Linked DNA regions of Homo sapiens: region 1 is linked to region 2. The links come from fine-mapping of genetic effects on plasma protein levels. A gene starts in region 2. The other region holds a variant in brackets. All regions are shown on one strand. Distances are between the middles of the regions.

The links. PIP is the posterior inclusion probability: the model's chance that the variant is causal. The UK Biobank Pharma Proteomics Project read protein levels with antibody pairs (Olink). The fine-mapping took linkage between variants from a reference panel, not from the people measured, so its PIPs are less certain.
Region 1: its variant is fine-mapped to the plasma level of the ICAM5 protein (UK Biobank, PIP 0.97).

The regions. Positions count from the first base shown.
Region 1 is chr19:10,294,808-10,304,320 of GRCh38, forward strand. ICAM5 (intercellular adhesion molecule 5) reads left to right here. Exons shown (of 11, transcript NM_003259.4): 10 at 539-805; 11 at 1,532-1,971. The coding sequence ends at 1,809. Among named protein-coding and RNA genes, the nearest start is that of ICAM5, 9.6 kb to the left of the region's middle. RefSeq lists a cis regulatory region at 4,635-5,467, a silencer at 4,756-4,920 and an enhancer at 4,827-5,076. The variant C/T (reference allele first, on the strand shown) is at 5,197.
Region 2 is chr19:10,283,754-10,292,499 of GRCh38, forward strand. ICAM5 (intercellular adhesion molecule 5) reads left to right here and starts at 6,199. Exons shown (of 11, transcript NM_003259.4): 1 at 6,199-6,372; 2 at 7,319-7,588; 3 at 7,736-8,056; 4 at 8,282-8,569. The coding sequence starts at 6,291. ICAM1 (intercellular adhesion molecule 1) reads left to right here. Exons shown (of 7, transcript NM_000201.3): 3 at 1-33; 4 at 280-567; 5 at 650-904; 6 at 1,030-1,275; 7 at 1,362-2,862. The coding sequence ends at 1,534. ICAM4 (intercellular adhesion molecule 4 (Landsteiner-Wiener blood group)) reads left to right here and starts at 3,202. Exons shown (of 3, transcript NM_001544.5): 1 at 3,202-3,653; 2 at 3,783-4,085; 3 at 4,233-4,767. The coding sequence starts at 3,260. The coding sequence ends at 4,351. ICAM4-AS1 (ICAM4 antisense RNA 1) reads right to left here and starts at 5,266. Exons shown (of 1, transcript NR_186335.1): 1 at 2,048-5,266. RefSeq lists enhancers at 2,770-2,819, 2,874-3,843, 3,190-3,329, 8,054-8,746 and silencers at 5,054-5,123, 7,594-7,663, 8,674-8,746.

The DNA.
Region 1 (9,513 bases), 11 kb after region 2:
GTAATCCCAACACTTTGGAAGGTTGAGGCGGATGAATCACTTGAGGCCAGGAGTTCGAGACCAGCCCGGCCAACATGGCGAAAACCCGTCTCTACAAAAATTAGCCGGTCGTGGTGGTGGGCGCCTGTGGTCCCAGCTACTTGGGAGGCTGAGGCAGGAGAATCGCTTGAGCCTGGGAGGCAGAGGTTGCAGGGAGCCGAGATCCCGCCACTGCACTCCAGCCTGGGCAACAGAGTGAGACTCTTTCTTAGAAAAACAGAAAAAGAAAATTATAGGGAATAGGAGCACGGCCCTCCTCAAATCCTGGATTAGAACACTGACCTGGGCTTCACCTCCTTCCATTCGGTGAAGAAGGGCGAGGAATTTTAGCCGCAACAGCAGCCTGATTGTCGGGGAAGGAGGCTCTGATAGGAGGCAGGATCCTCTTCTGCCCATCAGAGGCGCGGTGGTCTCCCATCGATCGTTGTGGGCCGGAGCAGGGCATTTGATCAGTGGCTGGGCCGGCGCTAAGCCCCACTTCACCTTCTGTGCCCTTCAGACCGGCCAGTGGTGGCCGAACTTGCTGCCTCGCCCCCTGGAGGCGTGCGCCCAGGAGGAAACTTCACGTTGACCTGCCGCGCGGAGGCCTGGCCTCCAGCCCAGATCAGCTGGCGCGCGCCCCCGGGGGCCCTCAACATCGGCCTGTCGAGCAACAACAGCACACTGAGCGTGGCAGGCGCCATGGGAAGCCACGGCGGCGAGTACGAGTGCGCAGCCACCAACGCGCACGGGCGCCACGCGCGGCGCATCACGGTGCGCGTGGCCGGTAAGTGGCAGCTGGGGAGAGGCGGGGCGAGGTATCTGAGAGGGGGCGTGACCTGGGTCTTGGGGCGGCCGGCCCCGCCTGCCTCCCTCTCGGTCCCGGTAGACTAGACGGAAGTGGGACAGAGTAGAAGTCAAAGGTGCCTTAGCGGGTGGGGCTGTTGATCGCACTTTGAGGGGTGGGAGATGGAGGTGGCAGGGGGACTGAATTCAAGGGGAGGGACCCTCCGGGGCTGTCACTGCTGCAGGAAAGGACTTTAAAACTTGGGCTGGATTCTGCGTGGTGGAAACTTGACCCAATTCACAATCCACTGTGGGGAAGATTGGGGAGGGACCAAAGTCATTGGATGTTGGAGGGAGAGAGGGGTCAAGATCGCCTTCTCTCACTTCCTGAAGCTCCTGGGGCTGGGTTCTCTCTGGGGTCGGGGGAACCTGACCTGGTCCTGCCGGTCCTCATTTTTTGGGGGATGGGGAGAGTTGACTTGTCGCCAGGGGGCTAAGTGTGGTCACGGGTTTATATCCCCATGGGCTGAAGTGCGATATAAATCGGGACTCGGGTCGCCCTGGCACTGGGAGTGGCCTTATTGCATGGGTTGTCTCCCTTCTCCCAAGGCCAGACAGTGAGCTCCCCGGGGCATGAGGACTGACTTCGTGCCTGTGGGAGTGCGGGGGGCGGTGGGAGAAGCCCCCCGGAGCTTGGCCACCCTCCGCGAGGGTCTCCACCCCGCAGGTCCGTGGCTATGGGTCGCCGTGGGCGGCGCGGCGGGGGGCGCGGCGCTGCTGGCCGCGGGGGCCGGCCTGGCCTTCTACGTGCAGTCCACCGCCTGCAAGAAGGGCGAGTACAACGTGCAGGAGGCCGAGAGCTCAGGCGAGGCCGTGTGTCTGAACGGAGCGGGCGGCGGCGCTGGCGGGGCGGCAGGCGCGGAGGGCGGACCCGAGGCGGCGGGGGGCGCGGCCGAGTCGCCGGCGGAGGGCGAGGTCTTCGCCATACAGCTGACATCGGCGTGAGCCCGCTCCCCTCTCCCCGCGGGCCGGGGGACGCCCCCCAGACTCACACGGGGGCTTATTTATTGCTTTATTTATTTACTTATTCATTTATTTATGTATTCAACTCCAAGGGCGTCACCCCCATTTTCTACCCATCCCCTCAATAAAGTTTTTATAAAGGAACTCCCTGTCTCCGCTTCTGTTTCTGCAAGGTGGAACAAGCCCAGGGTTCCAGTCGTGACCTCCCGAGTTATTCATTCAAAAAGCGATTTTTGAGAGGGCCTGGGGTGGTGGCTTAGGCCTGTAATCCCAGGACTTGTGGGAGGCCCAGGTGGGAGGATCCCTTGCACCCAAGAGTTTCAGACCAGCCTGGGCAACATAGGGAGACCCTACAAAAAATATTTTTCAAAAATTAGCCAAGGCCGGTCGCGGTGGCTCATGCGTGTAATCCCAGGACTTTGGAAGGCCGAGGCGGCCAGATCACGAGGTCGAGGTCATGAGATCGAGACCATCCTGGCCAATATGGTGAAACCCTGTCTCTACTAAAAATACAAAAATTAGCTGGGCATGGTGGTGCGCGCCTGTAGTCCCAGCTATTCGGGAGGCTGAGGCAGGAGAATCGCTTTAACCCCGGAGGCAGAGGTTGCAGTGAGCCGAGATCGTGCCACTGAACTCCAGCCTGGCGACAGAGCGAGATTCCGTCTTAAAAAAAAAACCAGGCGTGGTGGCTCACGCCTGTAATCCCAGCACTTTGGGAGGCCGAGGCGGGCGGATCACGAGGTCGGGAGATCGAGACCATCCTCGCTAACACGGTGAAACCCCGTCTCTACTAAAAATACAAAAAAAAAAAAAAAAAAAAAATTAGCCGAGCGTGGTGGCGGGCGCCTGTAGTCCCAGCTACTCAGGAGGCTGAGGCAGGAGAATGGCATGAACCCGGGGAGCAGAGCTTGCAGTGAGCCGAGATCGCGCCACTGCACTCCACCCTGGCAGACAGCAAGACTCCGTCTCAAAAAAAAAAAAAAAAATTAGCCAGGGCCGAGCACAGTACTCTCGCTTGAATCCCAGAACTTTGGGAAACTAAGGCGGGGGGGGGGGGTCACTTGAGGTCAGGAGTTCGAGACCACCCTGGCCAACGTGGTGAAACACCTTCTCTACCAAAAATACAAAAAAATTAAGGCCGGGTGAAGTGGCTCACGTCTGTAATCCCAGCACTTTGCGAGGCTGAGGCGGGCGGATCATGGGGTTAGAAGATCAAGACTGTCCTGGCTAACATGGTGAAACCCCGTCACTACTAAAAACACAAAAATTAGCCGGGCGTGGTGGCACATGCCTGTAGTCCCAGCTACTCAAGAGGCTGAGGCAGGAGAATCGCTTTAACCCCGGAGGCAGAGGTTGCAGTGAGCCAAGATCGCACCACTGCACTCCAGCCTGGGCAATAGAGCGAGACTCTGTCTCAAAAAAAAACCAAAAACAAAAACAAAAAAATACAAAAATTTAGCTGGGCTGTAGTGGCACACGCCCTGTAATCCCAGCTACTCGTGAGGCTGAGGCAGGAGAATTGCTAGAACCCGGGAGGTAGAGATCTTGCCATTGCACTCCAGCCTGGGCAACAGAACTAGACTCTGTCTCAAAAAAAAAAAAAAAAAAAAAAAAGTGTTTTTTGAGGGGGCTGGGCATGGTGGCTCAAGCCTGTAATCCCAGGACTTTTGGGAGGCCCAGGTGGGAGGATCCCTTGTGCCCACGAGTTTCAGACCAGCCTGGGCAACATAGCGAGACCCTACAAAAAAACATGTTTCAAAAAAAAATTTTTTTTTTTGAGATGGAGTCTCGCTCTGTCGCCCAGGCTGGACAGCAGTGGCACTATCTCTGCTCACTGCAAGCTCCGTCTCCCGGGTTCATGCCATTCTCCTGCCTCAGCCTCCCAAGTAGCTGGGATTACAGGCGCCTGCCACCACACCCAGCTAATTTTTTTTTGTATTTTTAGTAGAGATGGGATTTCACCGTGTTCGCCAGGATGGTCTCTATTCCTGACCTCGAGATCCACCCGCCTCAGCCTCCCAAAGTGCTGGGATTACAGGCGTGAGCCACCGCGCCCGGCCTCAAAAAAAAAATTTTTTTTTTGAGATGGAGTCTTGCTCTGTCACCCAGGCTGGAGTGCTGTGGTGTGATCTTGGCTCACTGCAACCTCTGCCTCCTGGGTTCAAGCAATTCCCCTGCCTTGGCTTCCCAAATAGCTGGGACTATAGGCATGCACCACCACACCCAGCTAATTTTTGTATTTTTAGTAGAGACAGGGTTTCACCATGTTGGCCAGGCTGGTCTCGAACTCCTGACCTAAGGTGATCCACCTGCCTCGGTCTCCCAAAGTGCTGGGATTACAGCTGTAAGCCACCATGCCTGGTGTATTTTTCAAAAATTAGCCAGACATGGTGGTGCATGCCTGTAGTCCCAGCTACTTGGGAGGCTGAGGCAGGAGGATCCTTTGAGCCTAGGAGGTCAAAGCCACTTCCAGCTATGATATCGTCATTGTGCTCCAGCCCAGGTGACAGAACCAGACCCTGTCTCTAAAAACAAACAACGAAAAAATCCAAAAACTTTTTTTGAACACCTACTATGCATCAGGCACAATCTAAGCTGTCTTTTTCTTTTTCTTTTTTTTTTTTTTTTGAGACGGAGTCTCTCTGTCGCCCAGGCTGGAGTGCAGTGGTGTAATCTCAGCTCACTGCAAGCTCTGCCTCCCACGTTCAAGCGATTTTCCTGCCTCAGCCTCCTGAGTAGCTGGGATTACAGGCGCGCGCCACCACTACGCCCGGCTAATTTTTGTATTTTTAGTAGAGACAGGGTTTCACCATGTTGGTCAGGCTAGTCTGGAACTACTGACCTCGTGATTCACCTGCCTCGGTCTCCCAACGTGCTGGAATTACAAGCCTGAGCCACTGTGCCTGGCCCGGCTGGCTGTCTTTTCTCAGTGTGACCTAGAGCTCGTCCTCTCTCAGTGCCTGTTTTCTGCTCTCTTCACACCCTTGGGCAGGGGTGGGGGCCTCACTCCTTCCTCCTACTTATCTCTTCCACCCAGCACTGCCCTCTGATCCGGGTCACTCTTGGAGGTGGGGGCTAGGTGCTTCCCCCAGGCCTGGTTACCGGCAGAGCTGAGGCCGCCTTGCCAGGGTGGGTGGAGGCCCTCTCCGTTGTGCCCCTGCCCTGAGACTTCGGTGAGACCTTCCTGGGCAGGCACTGGCTGATGCTATGGGTGTCAGCCCTTAGCATGTCCTCCCTGTTAAAGGGGGCACCCCTGCCCCGCCCTCAATGCCTCCTTTGTCCTGTGTCCACCCACAGTGCTTCAGTTTACCCCCACCCTGCCTTTCCACTCAGCCCATCATGATTCAGAACAGACACACACAGGGTATC[C/T]GCTGCAACCCCCACTACACGGCACCTTCCCCCCTCATCCCCAACAGCATAAGGCACAGCAGCTGGGCCTCCTCCCCACAGCCTCCTCCTCTGCCCCTCCTCCCTCAAAAGCAGGAACACGGAGCCCTAGAGAAGGAAGCCAGTCCCATGCAAACATGTAATGAGCAAAGATGAGACGGGGAAATGGCACAAGAGGGCAGGCCAGTGCTCGGTGCTGGAGCCAGGGGCCAGGTATAACACCCAAAAAGGCACCAGCCAGGTGCAGTCCCTGCCACTAACAGCACCTCACCTTTTCTGCCTGTGCCCTCCCTACTTAATGATCTCTCTCCGCTCCTACTGACCTCAAGGTCTCTTTCAGAGCCTTCAGATGAGATATTTATTTTAGTAGGTTGGTGCAAAAGTAATTGCTGTTTTTGCCATTGAAAGTAATGGCAGGCAGGGCATGGTGGCTCACGCCTGTAATCCCAGCACTTTGGGAGGCCGAGGTGGGCAGATCACGAGGTCAGGAGTTCAAGACCAGCCTGGCTAACATGGTGAAACCCTGTCTCTACTAACAATACAAAAAAAATTAGCCGGACATGGTGGCACACCCCTGTAGTCTCAGCTACTTGGGAGGCTGAGGCAGGAGAACTGCTTGAACCCTGAAGCGGAGGCTGCAGTGAGCTGAAATCACGCCACTGCACTCCAGCCTGGGCCACAGAGTGAGACTGTCTCAGAGGAAAAAAAAAAAAAAAAAGTAATGGCAAAAACTGCAATTACTTTTTCTTTTTCTTTCTGTTTTTTTTTTTGTTTGTTTGTTTGTTTGTTTGTTTGTTTGAGACGGAGTCTCACTGTGTGGCCCAGGCTGGAGTGCAGTGGCGCAATCTTGGCTTACTGCAGCCTCCGCCTCCCAGGTTCAAGTGATTCTCTCCTGCCTCAGCCTCCCAATAGGATTACAGGCACCCACCACTATGCCTGGCTAATTTTTGTATCTTTAGCAGAGATGGGGTTTCACCATGTTTGCCAGGCTGGTCTCGAACTCCTGATCCACCCACCTCAGCTTCCCAAAGTGCTGGGATTACAGGCAGGCATGAGCCATGGTGCCCGACATTTTTTTTTTTTTTTCTTTTTTTTTTTGAGACAGAGTCTCACTTTGTCACCCAGGCTGGAGTGCAAAGGCAAGATCTCACTGCAGCCTCTGCCTCCTGGGTTAAAGCGATTCTCCCACCTTAGCCCCCTGAGTAGGTGAGATTACAGGCACATGCCACCACACCTGCCTAATTTTTGTATTTTTAATAGAGAGGGGGTTTCACCATTTTGTCCACGCTGGTCTCGAACTCCTGACCTCAAGGGATTCGCCCACCTCAGCCTCCCAAAGTGCTGGGATTACAGGCATGAGCCACCACGCCCGACCTCCTTAACTCTTTTATTTCCTTGCACACTTTTTCTCTGTAGCCCAGCTCACAACTTAACATCCTCTTAGACATACACCTGAGGTTTTTTTTTTTTTTTTTTTTGAGAGGGAGTCTCTCTCTGTCACCCAGGATGGAATGCAGTGGTGTGCTCTCAGCTCACTGCAACCTTGCAACCACTGCCTCCCAGGTTCAAGCAATTCTCCTGCCTCAGCCTCCCGAGTAGCTGGGACTACAGACACATGCCGCCACACCTGGCTGATTTTTTGTTTTTTAGTAGAGACAGGGTTTCACCGTGTTGCCCAGGCTGGTCTCAAACTCCTGAGTTCAGGCAGTCCGCCTGCCTTAGCCTTCCAAAATGCTGGGATTACAGGCATGAGGCACCGCGTCCTGCCTCTGAGTTTTTTTTTTTTTTTTTTTTTTACTGTCTCCTAGAACATCAGCCCCAGTAGAGCAGGGATCTTTGTTCTGTTCACCACTGAGGGTCCTCATTGGGTCCTAGCACACACAGTTGCTCAATAAATGTTGAATAAGTGGGTAAAGACAGCCACGAGCTTGCAGATATGTGTTCAAGGTGTGTCCTTGCAGAGAGCTTCTCTATACTTGGCACTGGAGAGGCCTGTCGTGGGCAAGGACATAGATGTGGCGACCTCAGACTTGAGAACTCCTGGGGCAGTAGGGGAGATGGATGTGGATAATGTAACCATAAGCCTTCCTTTCTATTTTAGACTGAGTGGTCAAGGAAGGCTTCCAGACAATGGAAATTCTGATAGGTTCTAAGAGGGAGACCAGCAAGGAGCTGAACCGGAGGCTGACACAGGGTGAGAGTGGGAATGTCTATTTTATTTTTTTTTTGGAGACAGGGTCTCACTCTGTTGCTCAGGCAGCAGTGCAGTGGCACGATCGTGGCTCACTGCAGCTTCAACTTCCCAGACTCAAGTGATCCTCCCACCTCAGCCTCCCAAGCAGCTGGGAATATAGGTGCATGCCACCACATCCGGCTAATTTTTGTATTTTTGGTAGAAACGGGGTTTCACCATGTTGCCCAGGCTGGTCTTGAACTCCTGGGTTCAAGTGATCTTGCTGCCTTGGGCTCCCAAAGTGCTTGGATTACAGGTGTGAGCCTGTGAGCCACATCTGGCCTATTTTATTTTTTAATTAGTTTTTTGTTTTTGTTTTTGTTTTGAGATGGAGTCTCTGTCTCCAAGGCTGGAGTGCAGTGGCACGATCTCGGCTCACTGTAACCTCCACCTCCCAAGTAGCTGGGATTACAGGCACATGCCACCACGCCTGGCTAATTTTTGTATCTTTAGTAGAGACAGGGTTTCCCCATGTTGGCCAGGCTGGTCTCGAACTCCTGACCTCCGGTGATCCACCTGCCTCAGTTTCCCAAAGTGCTGGGATTATAGGAATGAGCCACTCTGCCTGGCTGGGCATGTGTCTTGTTTTTTTCATTCTGTAGATAACAAGCAATTGTCCTCCCTCAGCCTCCCAAGTAGCTGGTACTACAGGCGCCTGCCACTACGCCCGGCTATTTTTTGTAGTTTTAGCAGAGGTGGGGTTTCACCATGTTAACCAGTCTCTAACTCCTGACCTCAGGTGATCCTCCTGCCTTGGCCTCCCAAAGTGCTGGAATTACAGGTGTGAGCCACCAAGCCCAGCCTCAAACTCCTGAGTTTAAGTGATCCTCACACCTCAGCCTCCCTGAGTGCTGGGATTACAGGTGTGAGCCACCACACCCGGCCTGAGTCGGGGGAGGTGTCTATTTTAGTCTGAGTGGTCAAGGAAGGCTTCTCTGAAGAGCTGATGTTGGGGCCAGGCCTCCTCAAGCGATTAGAAGGTGTCAGCCATGGGGAGATGTGGAGGGAGGGTGTTTCAGGCCAAGGAAGGGTAAGATCAAATAATTCAGGGATCTGAGGGCAGAGGAATCTGGACTCCAGTTCTCCCATTCAGGGCTGCCCAGGAGAGACAAAGAGGATCTCATAAGGGTGTGTGGCTTTGTGGCTCACTCACGCCCACAGCAAGGACCATGCCCACCCTACTTTTTTTTTTTTCCCCAAGTCTCCCTCTATTACCCAGGCTGGAGTACAGTGGTACGATCACGGTTCACTGCAGTCTTGACCTCCAGGGCTCAAGTGATCCTCCCACCTCAGTGTCCTGAGTAGCTGGCACTACAGGCATGCACCACCACCCCTGGCTCATTTTTTGATTTTTTGGTAGAGACGGGGTCTCACTGTGTTACCCAGGCTGGTCTCAAACTCCTGGGCTCAAGCGATCCTCCCACCTCTGCCTTCTGAAGTGTTGGGATTACAGGTGTGAGCCACCATGCCCAGCCCGCCACCAGTCTTGACTCTCCATCCTCCCTCCCTCCCTGTGAGTGCTGGTGGCCTGTGTGTCCCGCCTGCTGAAAGATGCCTCTGACTTGGGGCTTTTGACTTCAGGCCCGGGAGACACATTTTGGCTGGATTAGGGAGATCTTAAAAGGGGGTAGGGGACACAGCAGGGGCTAAGGAGAGTGACACACTGCAGGCAGGGGTTGGGTGACAGATGAAGGATCCACTGGTATATGCTGCCAGTGTGTGCCATCTACTTGTGTGTTTTACGTGTGTCTGGTGCATGTGTCCTGTGTGGGCTGTATCTGTGTGTGACTCAGCTACGTGTCAGCATATCCCTGTCGACGTGTGTCTCTGCTGATGTGTCTGTCAGCACGCACGGCTGTCTTGCATGTGTCTTTTTTGAGATAGAGTCTCGCTCTGTCACCCAGGCTGGAGTGCAGTGGCACGATCTTGGCTCATTGCAACCTCAACCTCCCAGGTTCAAGCGATTCTCCTGCCTGAGCCTCCCAAGTAGCTCGGATTACAGGCACATGCTACCACGCCTGGCTAATTTTTGCATATTTAGTAGAGACGGGGTTTCATCATGTTGG
Region 2 (8,746 bases):
ACACCTCGGCCCCCTACCAGCTCCAGACCTTTGGTGAGGATTGAAGAAGCCAGCAGGGAGAAGGTGGGGGTGGGGTATCCTGCAATGCGGTGCCTGTGGCCACAGGATCTTTTGAGATGGGTGTGGCCCCGGCTAAGGGGTGCATGTGTTCTAGGCGTATGTGACCTAGGCTGCTGAGTGGCCCTGGAAGAGGATCTCGCAGGAGGGGGAATGAAATGCCCCAGAGAAGGGCTTCGGGACGTCCATCCCTGTCTGCTCACACCTTTCTTCTCTCCCTAGTCCTGCCAGCGACTCCCCCACAACTTGTCAGCCCCCGGGTCCTAGAGGTGGACACGCAGGGGACCGTGGTCTGTTCCCTGGACGGGCTGTTCCCAGTCTCGGAGGCCCAGGTCCACCTGGCACTGGGGGACCAGAGGTTGAACCCCACAGTCACCTATGGCAACGACTCCTTCTCGGCCAAGGCCTCAGTCAGTGTGACCGCAGAGGACGAGGGCACCCAGCGGCTGACGTGTGCAGTAATACTGGGGAACCAGAGCCAGGAGACACTGCAGACAGTGACCATCTACAGTAAGAAGGGGCAGGGGCGGAGTGGGGCTTCTTGGGGGTGTGACCTGAACCCGGGGCGGGGCTCACTGTGTGCCTATTCCAGGCTTTCCGGCGCCCAACGTGATTCTGACGAAGCCAGAGGTCTCAGAAGGGACCGAGGTGACAGTGAAGTGTGAGGCCCACCCTAGAGCCAAGGTGACGCTGAATGGGGTTCCAGCCCAGCCACTGGGCCCGAGGGCCCAGCTCCTGCTGAAGGCCACCCCAGAGGACAACGGGCGCAGCTTCTCCTGCTCTGCAACCCTGGAGGTGGCCGGCCAGCTTATACACAAGAACCAGACCCGGGAGCTTCGTGTCCTGTGTGAGTGGGGCTGCTGGTCAATGGCCCCTATCCCCCAAGGCCCAATCTCCCTGAAGGTCCCATAAGGTCTTGCCTCCAAGTCCTGCCCCCACCCACCTCCATGTCATCTCATCGTGTTTTTCCAGATGGCCCCCGACTGGACGAGAGGGATTGTCCGGGAAACTGGACGTGGCCAGAAAATTCCCAGCAGACTCCAATGTGCCAGGCTTGGGGGAACCCATTGCCCGAGCTCAAGTGTCTAAAGGATGGCACTTTCCCACTGCCCATCGGGGAATCAGTGACTGTCACTCGAGATCTTGAGGGCACCTACCTCTGTCGGGCCAGGAGCACTCAAGGGGAGGTCACCCGCAAGGTGACCGTGAATGTGCTCTGTGAGTGAGCCGGCGGGCAGAGCTGGGTGGGGGCAGGGGCCATGGACCTAATGCAATCCTCACCGCCTGTTGTATCCTCCCCACAGCCCCCCGGTATGAGATTGTCATCATCACTGTGGTAGCAGCCGCAGTCATAATGGGCACTGCAGGCCTCAGCACGTACCTCTATAACCGCCAGCGGAAGATCAAGAAATACAGACTACAACAGGCCCAAAAAGGGACCCCCATGAAACCGAACACACAAGCCACGCCTCCCTGAACCTATCCCGGGACAGGGCCTCTTCCTCGGCCTTCCCATATTGGTGGCAGTGGTGCCACACTGAACAGAGTGGAAGACATATGCCATGCAGCTACACCTACCGGCCCTGGGACGCCGGAGGACAGGGCATTGTCCTCAGTCAGATACAACAGCATTTGGGGCCATGGTACCTGCACACCTAAAACACTAGGCCACGCATCTGATCTGTAGTCACATGACTAAGCCAAGAGGAAGGAGCAAGACTCAAGACATGATTGATGGATGTTAAAGTCTAGCCTGATGAGAGGGGAAGTGGTGGGGGAGACATAGCCCCACCATGAGGACATACAACTGGGAAATACTGAAACTTGCTGCCTATTGGGTATGCTGAGGCCCCACAGACTTACAGAAGAAGTGGCCCTCCATAGACATGTGTAGCATCAAAACACAAAGGCCCACACTTCCTGACGGATGCCAGCTTGGGCACTGCTGTCTACTGACCCCAACCCTTGATGATATGTATTTATTCATTTGTTATTTTACCAGCTATTTATTGAGTGTCTTTTATGTAGGCTAAATGAACATAGGTCTCTGGCCTCACGGAGCTCCCAGTCCTAATCACATTCAAGGTCACCAGGTACAGTTGTACAGGTTGTACACTGCAGGAGAGTGCCTGGCAAAAAGATCAAATGGGGCTGGGACTTCTCATTGGCCAACCTGCCTTTCCCCAGAAGGAGTGATTTTTCTATCGGCACAAAAGCACTATATGGACTGGTAATGGTTACAGGTTCAGAGATTACCCAGTGAGGCCTTATTCCTCCCTTCCCCCCAAAACTGACACCTTTGTTAGCCACCTCCCCACCCACATACATTTCTGCCAGTGTTCACAATGACACTCAGCGGTCATGTCTGGACATGAGTGCCCAGGGAATATGCCCAAGCTATGCCTTGTCCTCTTGTCCTGTTTGCATTTCACTGGGAGCTTGCACTATGCAGCTCCAGTTTCCTGCAGTGATCAGGGTCCTGCAAGCAGTGGGGAAGGGGGCCAAGGTATTGGAGGACTCCCTCCCAGCTTTGGAAGCCTCATCCGCGTGTGTGTGTGTGTGTATGTGTAGACAAGCTCTCGCTCTGTCACCCAGGCTGGAGTGCAGTGGTGCAATCATGGTTCACTGCAGTCTTGACCTTTTGGGCTCAAGTGATCCTCCCACCTCAGCCTCCTGAGTAGCTGGGACCATAGGCTCACAACACCACACCTGGCAAATTTGATTTTTTTTTTTTTTCCAGAGACGGGGTCTCGCAACATTGCCCAGACTTCCTTTGTGTTAGTTAATAAAGCTTTCTCAACTGCCTCAGCCTTGTGTGAGTTGAGGGGAGGTGTCACATCCAGCTGGAGTCCTTTCTAAGCAGCCACAGCCTGATCCTCCCACTTCCTCCCCCAAGAAAACATTGTGGGTTGATGGCCATACCCTGAGGTTCTGGTCCAAATCGGACTTTCTATGACCTTCTGGGTCTCTAGTGAAAACTAAAGACTCCTCTCCAGAAAAAAACATTTGGTTTCTAATGAGGCCTGGAATCTTATTCTTGACCTGGGGAGCGGAATCCCTTTTTGCAGTACTCCCGGGCCCTCTGTTGGGGCCTCCCCTTCCTCTCCAGGGTGGAGTCGAGGAGGCGGGGCTGCGGGCCTCCTTATCTCTAGAGCCGGCCCTGGCTCTCTGGCGCGGGGCCCCTTAGTCCGGGCTTTTTGCCATGGGGTCTCTGTTCCCTCTGTCGCTGCTGTTTTTTTTGGCGGCCGCCTACCCGGGAGTTGGGAGCGCGCTGGGACGCCGGACTAAGCGGGCGCAAAGCCCCAAGGGTAGCCCTCTCGCGCCCTCCGGGACCTCAGTGCCCTTCTGGGTGCGCATGAGCCCGGAGTTCGTGGCTGTGCAGCCGGGGAAGTCAGTGCAGCTCAATTGCAGCAACAGCTGTCCCCAGCCGCAGAATTCCAGCCTCCGCACCCCGCTGCGGCAAGGCAAGACGCTCAGAGGGCCGGGTTGGGTGTCTTACCAGCTGCTCGACGTGAGGGCCTGGAGCTCCCTCGCGCACTGCCTCGTGACCTGCGCAGGAAAAACACGCTGGGCCACCTCCAGGATCACCGCCTACAGTGAGGGACAGGGGCTCGGTCCCGGCTGGGGTGAGGGGAGGGGGCTGGAAGAGGTGGGGGAAGGGTAGTTGACAGTCGCTCTATAGGGAGCGCCCGCGGACCTCACTCAGAGGCTCCCCCTTGCCTTAGAACCGCCCCACAGCGTGATTTTGGAGCCTCCGGTCTTAAAGGGCAGGAAATACACTTTGCGCTGCCACGTGACGCAGGTGTTCCCGGTGGGCTACTTGGTGGTGACCCTGAGGCATGGAAGCCGGGTCATCTATTCCGAAAGCCTGGAGCGCTTCACCGGCCTGGATCTGGCCAACGTGACCTTGACCTACGAGTTTGCTGCTGGACCCCGCGACTTCTGGCAGCCCGTGATCTGCCACGCGCGCCTCAATCTCGACGGCCTGGTGGTCCGCAACAGCTCGGCACCCATTACACTGATGCTCGGTGAGGCACCCCTGTAACCCTGGGGACTAGGAGGAAGGGGGCAGAGAGAGTTATGACCCCGAGAGGGCGCACAGACCAAGCGTGAGCTCCACGCGGGTCGACAGACCTCCCTGTGTTCCGTTCCTAATTCTCGCCTTCTGCTCCCAGCTTGGAGCCCCGCGCCCACAGCTTTGGCCTCCGGTTCCATCGCTGCCCTTGTAGGGATCCTCCTCACTGTGGGCGCTGCGTACCTATGCAAGTGCCTAGCTATGAAGTCCCAGGCGTAAAGGGGGATGTTCTATGCCGGCTGAGCGAGAAAAAGAGGAATATGAAACAATCTGGGGAAATGGCCATACATGGTGGCTGACGCCTGTAATCCCAGCACTTTGGGAGGCCGAGGCAGGAGAATCGCTTGAGCCCAGGAGTTCGAGACCAGCCTGGACAACATAGTGAGACCCCGTCTATGCAAAAAATACACAAATTAGCCTGGTGTGGTGGCCCGCACCTGTGGTCCCAGCTACCCGGGAGGCTGAGTTGGGAGGATCCTTTGAGCCCTGAAAGTCGAGGTTGCAGTGAGCCTTGATCGTGCCACTGCACTCCAGCCTGGGGGACAGAGCACGACCCTGTCTCCAAAAATAAAATAAAAATAAAAATAAATATTGGCGGGGGAACCCTCTGGAATCAATAAAGGCTTCCTTAACCAGCCTCTGTCCTGTGACCTAAGGGTCCGCATTACTGCCCTTCTTCGGAGGAACTGGTTTGTTTTTGTTGTTGTTGTTGTTTTTGCGATCACTTTCTCCAAGTTCCTTGTCTCCCTGAGGGCACCTGAGGTTTCCTCACTCAGGGCCCACCTGGGGTCCCGAAGCCCCAGACTCTGTGTATCCCCAGCGGGTGTCACAGAAACCTCTCCTTCTGCTGGCCTTATCGAGTGGGATCAGCGCGGGCCGGGGAGAGCCACGGGCAGGGGCGGGGTGGGGTTCATGGTATGGCTTTCCTGATTGGCGCCGCCGCCACCACGCGGCAGCTCTGATTGGATGTTAAGTTTCCTATCCCAGCCCCACCTTCAGACCCTGTGCTTTCCTGGAGGCCAAACAACTGTGGAGCGAGAACTCATCTCCAAAATAACTTACCACGCTGGAGTGAGACCACGAATGGTGGGGAGGGGAGGGTCCCACGGACATATTGAGGGACGTGGATACGCAGAAGAGGTATCCATGTGGTGGCAGCCGGGAAGGGGTGATCAGATGGTCCACAGGGAATATCACAAACTCGAATTCTGACGATGTTCTGGTAGTCACCCAGCCAGATGAGCGCATGGAGTTGGGGGTGGGGGGTGTCAAAGCTTGGGGCCCGGAAGCGGAGTCAAAAGCATCACCCTCGGTCCCTTGTTCTCGCGTGGATGTCAGGGCCCCCACCCACCGAGCAGAAGGCGGACTCAGGGGCGCTCCAGGGTGGCTCGAGCTCACACACGCTGAGTAGACACGTGCCCGCTGCACCCTGGGTAAATACAGACCCGGAGCCGAGCGGATTCTAATTTAGACGCCCGCGAACGCTGCGCGCACGCACACGTGTCCTCGGCTCGCTGGCACTTTCGTCCCGCCCCCTCCGTCGCGTGCGGGAGCTGACCCGGAGGGGTGCTTAGAGGTATGGCTCCGCGGGGTCAAAAGGAGAAGGATCAGTGAGAGAGGCATCCCCACACCCTCCCCTAGAACTGTCCTTTCCCCATCCAGTGCCTCCCAAATCTCTCTTAGTCCCCAAATGTATCCCCGCCCTAAGGGGCGCTGGTGGGAGGAGCTAAATGTGGGGGCGGGGCTCGGAGTCCAGCTTATTATCATGGCATCTCAGCCAGGGCTGGGGTAGGGGTTTGGGAAGGGCAACCCAGCATCCCCCGATCCCAGAGTCGCGGCCGGGGATGACGCGAGAGAGCGTGGTCGCCCCCAGAAGGCCCTGGGCCATCATGCCGGCCTCCACGTAGACCCCAGGGGTCGCTCACTCCTGCCAGCTCGCCTTCACCAAGGCCAGGAGCTTAGCGCACGCTCGCCTCCCGCCCCCCCGCCGCCTCTGCCGCCGCCCCCTCCTTGGAAACCAAGTTACCAACGTTAAACCAATCCCCAAGCGCAACTCTGCCTCCCCCACACCCCACCCGCCGCGCCGCGCGGAGCCGTCCTCTAGCCCAGCTCCTCGGCTCGCGCTCTCCTCGCCTCCTGTGCTTTCCCCGCCGCGGCGATGCCAGGGCCTTCGCCAGGGCTGCGCCGGGCGCTACTCGGCCTCTGGGCTGCTCTGGGCCTGGGGCTCTTCGGCCTCTCAGGTAAGAGCCCCGCTCTGGTTCGGGGTGGACAGGGCGGGGGCGGAGTCCCTGGACCTGAGAAACGGCCTCCTGTCCCTCCCAGCTCTGCCCTCGCCTCGCTCCCACGCCTCTGCCCCCACCTCGAGCCTGAGTCTTCTCCCCTTCCCCCTCCTCCCCAACACACACCCGAGCCCCAGCTTCCTGACTCCTCGATAGCCCCTACCCGCTTCGAGATCCTAGGTGTTCTTCCGCACCCAACCCTTCGCCCTGGAGACCCAGTGTCTCTCCTGTCCGCTCCCCGGGTACCTCCTTACGCTGTGCTGTGCACCATGGTCCACGGACTGGCATCTTCCCCACTCGCGGTCCGCGAAGACTCCATCTCTCCAACTACCCTGACTCAGAGGCGCTGTTCCCGCTCCACCCAGAGCCCTGGCAACCGGGTCCCTCAGCTGTTCCCGCGGTTCCTTCCATGAGCCCAGCCTTGCGTCCCGGCTCCGTGTTCTTCACCGGGTGTAGGGTCCTTCCTGATCCTTGACCCAGCCTCGTCTCTCCTTTGCCCTTGCCGCAAACGCACTCTCCTCGTATCCCGGCATTCTGCCAGGACCCTGAGAACTGGTTCATCCCCCATCCCCCATCCCGGGTCCCCTTCTCTCAGCCTTGCTGTGTTCATCCAAGAACCCACCTTTCCTCTCCTCTACGCCCTCCCCCCATGCTTTCCCGCCGCTCCATCGGCGCTTTGGAGACCATGGCTCTCTGCTACCACGTCCCAGAGACACCCTCGAGGTTTAGACTCTGGGAGTGCGCCTTTAAACCGGAGGCCTGGGCAGGACGCGGGACGCCTGGGTTCTTTCCCTGGCTGCAGCCTCTCCTCCTCCTCCCCGCCCTCTGAGAACCCTTGACTCGACATAGGGGCGCTAAGATGTCAGGGAGTTGGCTCCCCAGGCTCAGCCCGCGTTTCCCTGGGCAGCGGTCTCGCAGGAGCCCTTCTGGGCGGACCTGCAGCCTCGCGTGGCGTTCGTGGAGCGCGGGGGCTCGCTGTGGCTGAATTGCAGCACCAACTGCCCTCGGCCGGAGCGCGGTGGCCTGGAGACCTCGCTGCGCCGAAACGGGACCCAGAGGGGTTTGCGTTGGTTGGCGCGGCAGCTGGTGGACATTCGCGAGCCGGAGACTCAGCCCGTCTGCTTCTTCCGCTGCGCGCGGCGCACACTACAGGCGCGTGGGCTCATTCGCACTTTCCGTGAGTTCTGGGTGGCCACGCGCGTACTCCACTACTCTCCCTCCCTCCCAGGCCCCGCCCCCTGGGTCCCAGGGTCCTCCCCTTCAGGCCCCACCTTCTGTTCCAAGTCCCGGTGTTCAAAGAGCTGCGGACTCTTCCCCCTTGCAGAGCGACCAGATCGCGTAGAGCTGATGCCGCTGCCTCCCTGGCAGCCGGTGGGCGAGAACTTCACCCTGAGCTGTAGGGTCCCCGGCGCCGGGCCCCGTGCGAGCCTCACGCTGACCCTGCTGCGGGGCGCCCAGGAGCTGATCCGCCGCAGCTTCGCCGGTGAACCACCCCGAGCGCGGGGCGCGGTGCTCACAGCCACGGTACTGGCTCGGAGGGAGGACCATGGAGCCAATTTCTCGTGTCGCGCCGAGCTGGACCTGCGGCCGCACGGACTGGGACTGTTTGAAAACAGCTCGGCCCCCAGAGAGCTCCGAACCTTCTGTGAGTGGGTGTGGGGAGGAGATGGGGACCCAGTGGGGTCGGTCGGTGTTTAGGAGGTTTAGAGGTAGATACATCTGAATGCTGACCCCGACTTCAACCCTCGCCGGCTGAGCTGTTTCCCCCTCCGTGCCTTGAGGATGATAATACGATAAGATAGTGCATGTCAAGTGCTTAGGACATATTGAGCGCTCGGAGTTAGTTCAAACTTGGTTCTTCGACCCCTAGCCCTGTCTCCGGATGCCCCGCGCCTCGCTGCTCCCCGGCTCTTGGAAGTTGGCTCGGAAAGGCCCGTGAGCTGCACTCTGGACGGACTGTTTCCAGCCTCAGAGGCCAGGGTCTACCTCGCACTGGGGGACCAGAATCTGAGTCCTGATGTCACCCTCGAAGGGGACGCATTCGTGGCCACTGCCACAGCCACAGCTAGCGCAGAGCAGGAGGGTGCCAGGCAGCTGGTCTGCAACGTCACCCTGGGGGGCGAAAACCGGGAGACCCGGGAGAACGTGACCATCTACAGTAAGGAAGGAGGCGGGGTCTCCGCGGCTCCGAGGTGGGACCAGAGGAATGCGAAGGCGGGGCGAAGAGTGGGCGGGACCTCAGTACCGGAACAGGCGTGGCCCGAGGGGCGGGGCAGGTGGGGGCGGAGACGTAATCGCTGGGGAGGAGGAGCCTGTACAGCCTGAGAGGCGGGGC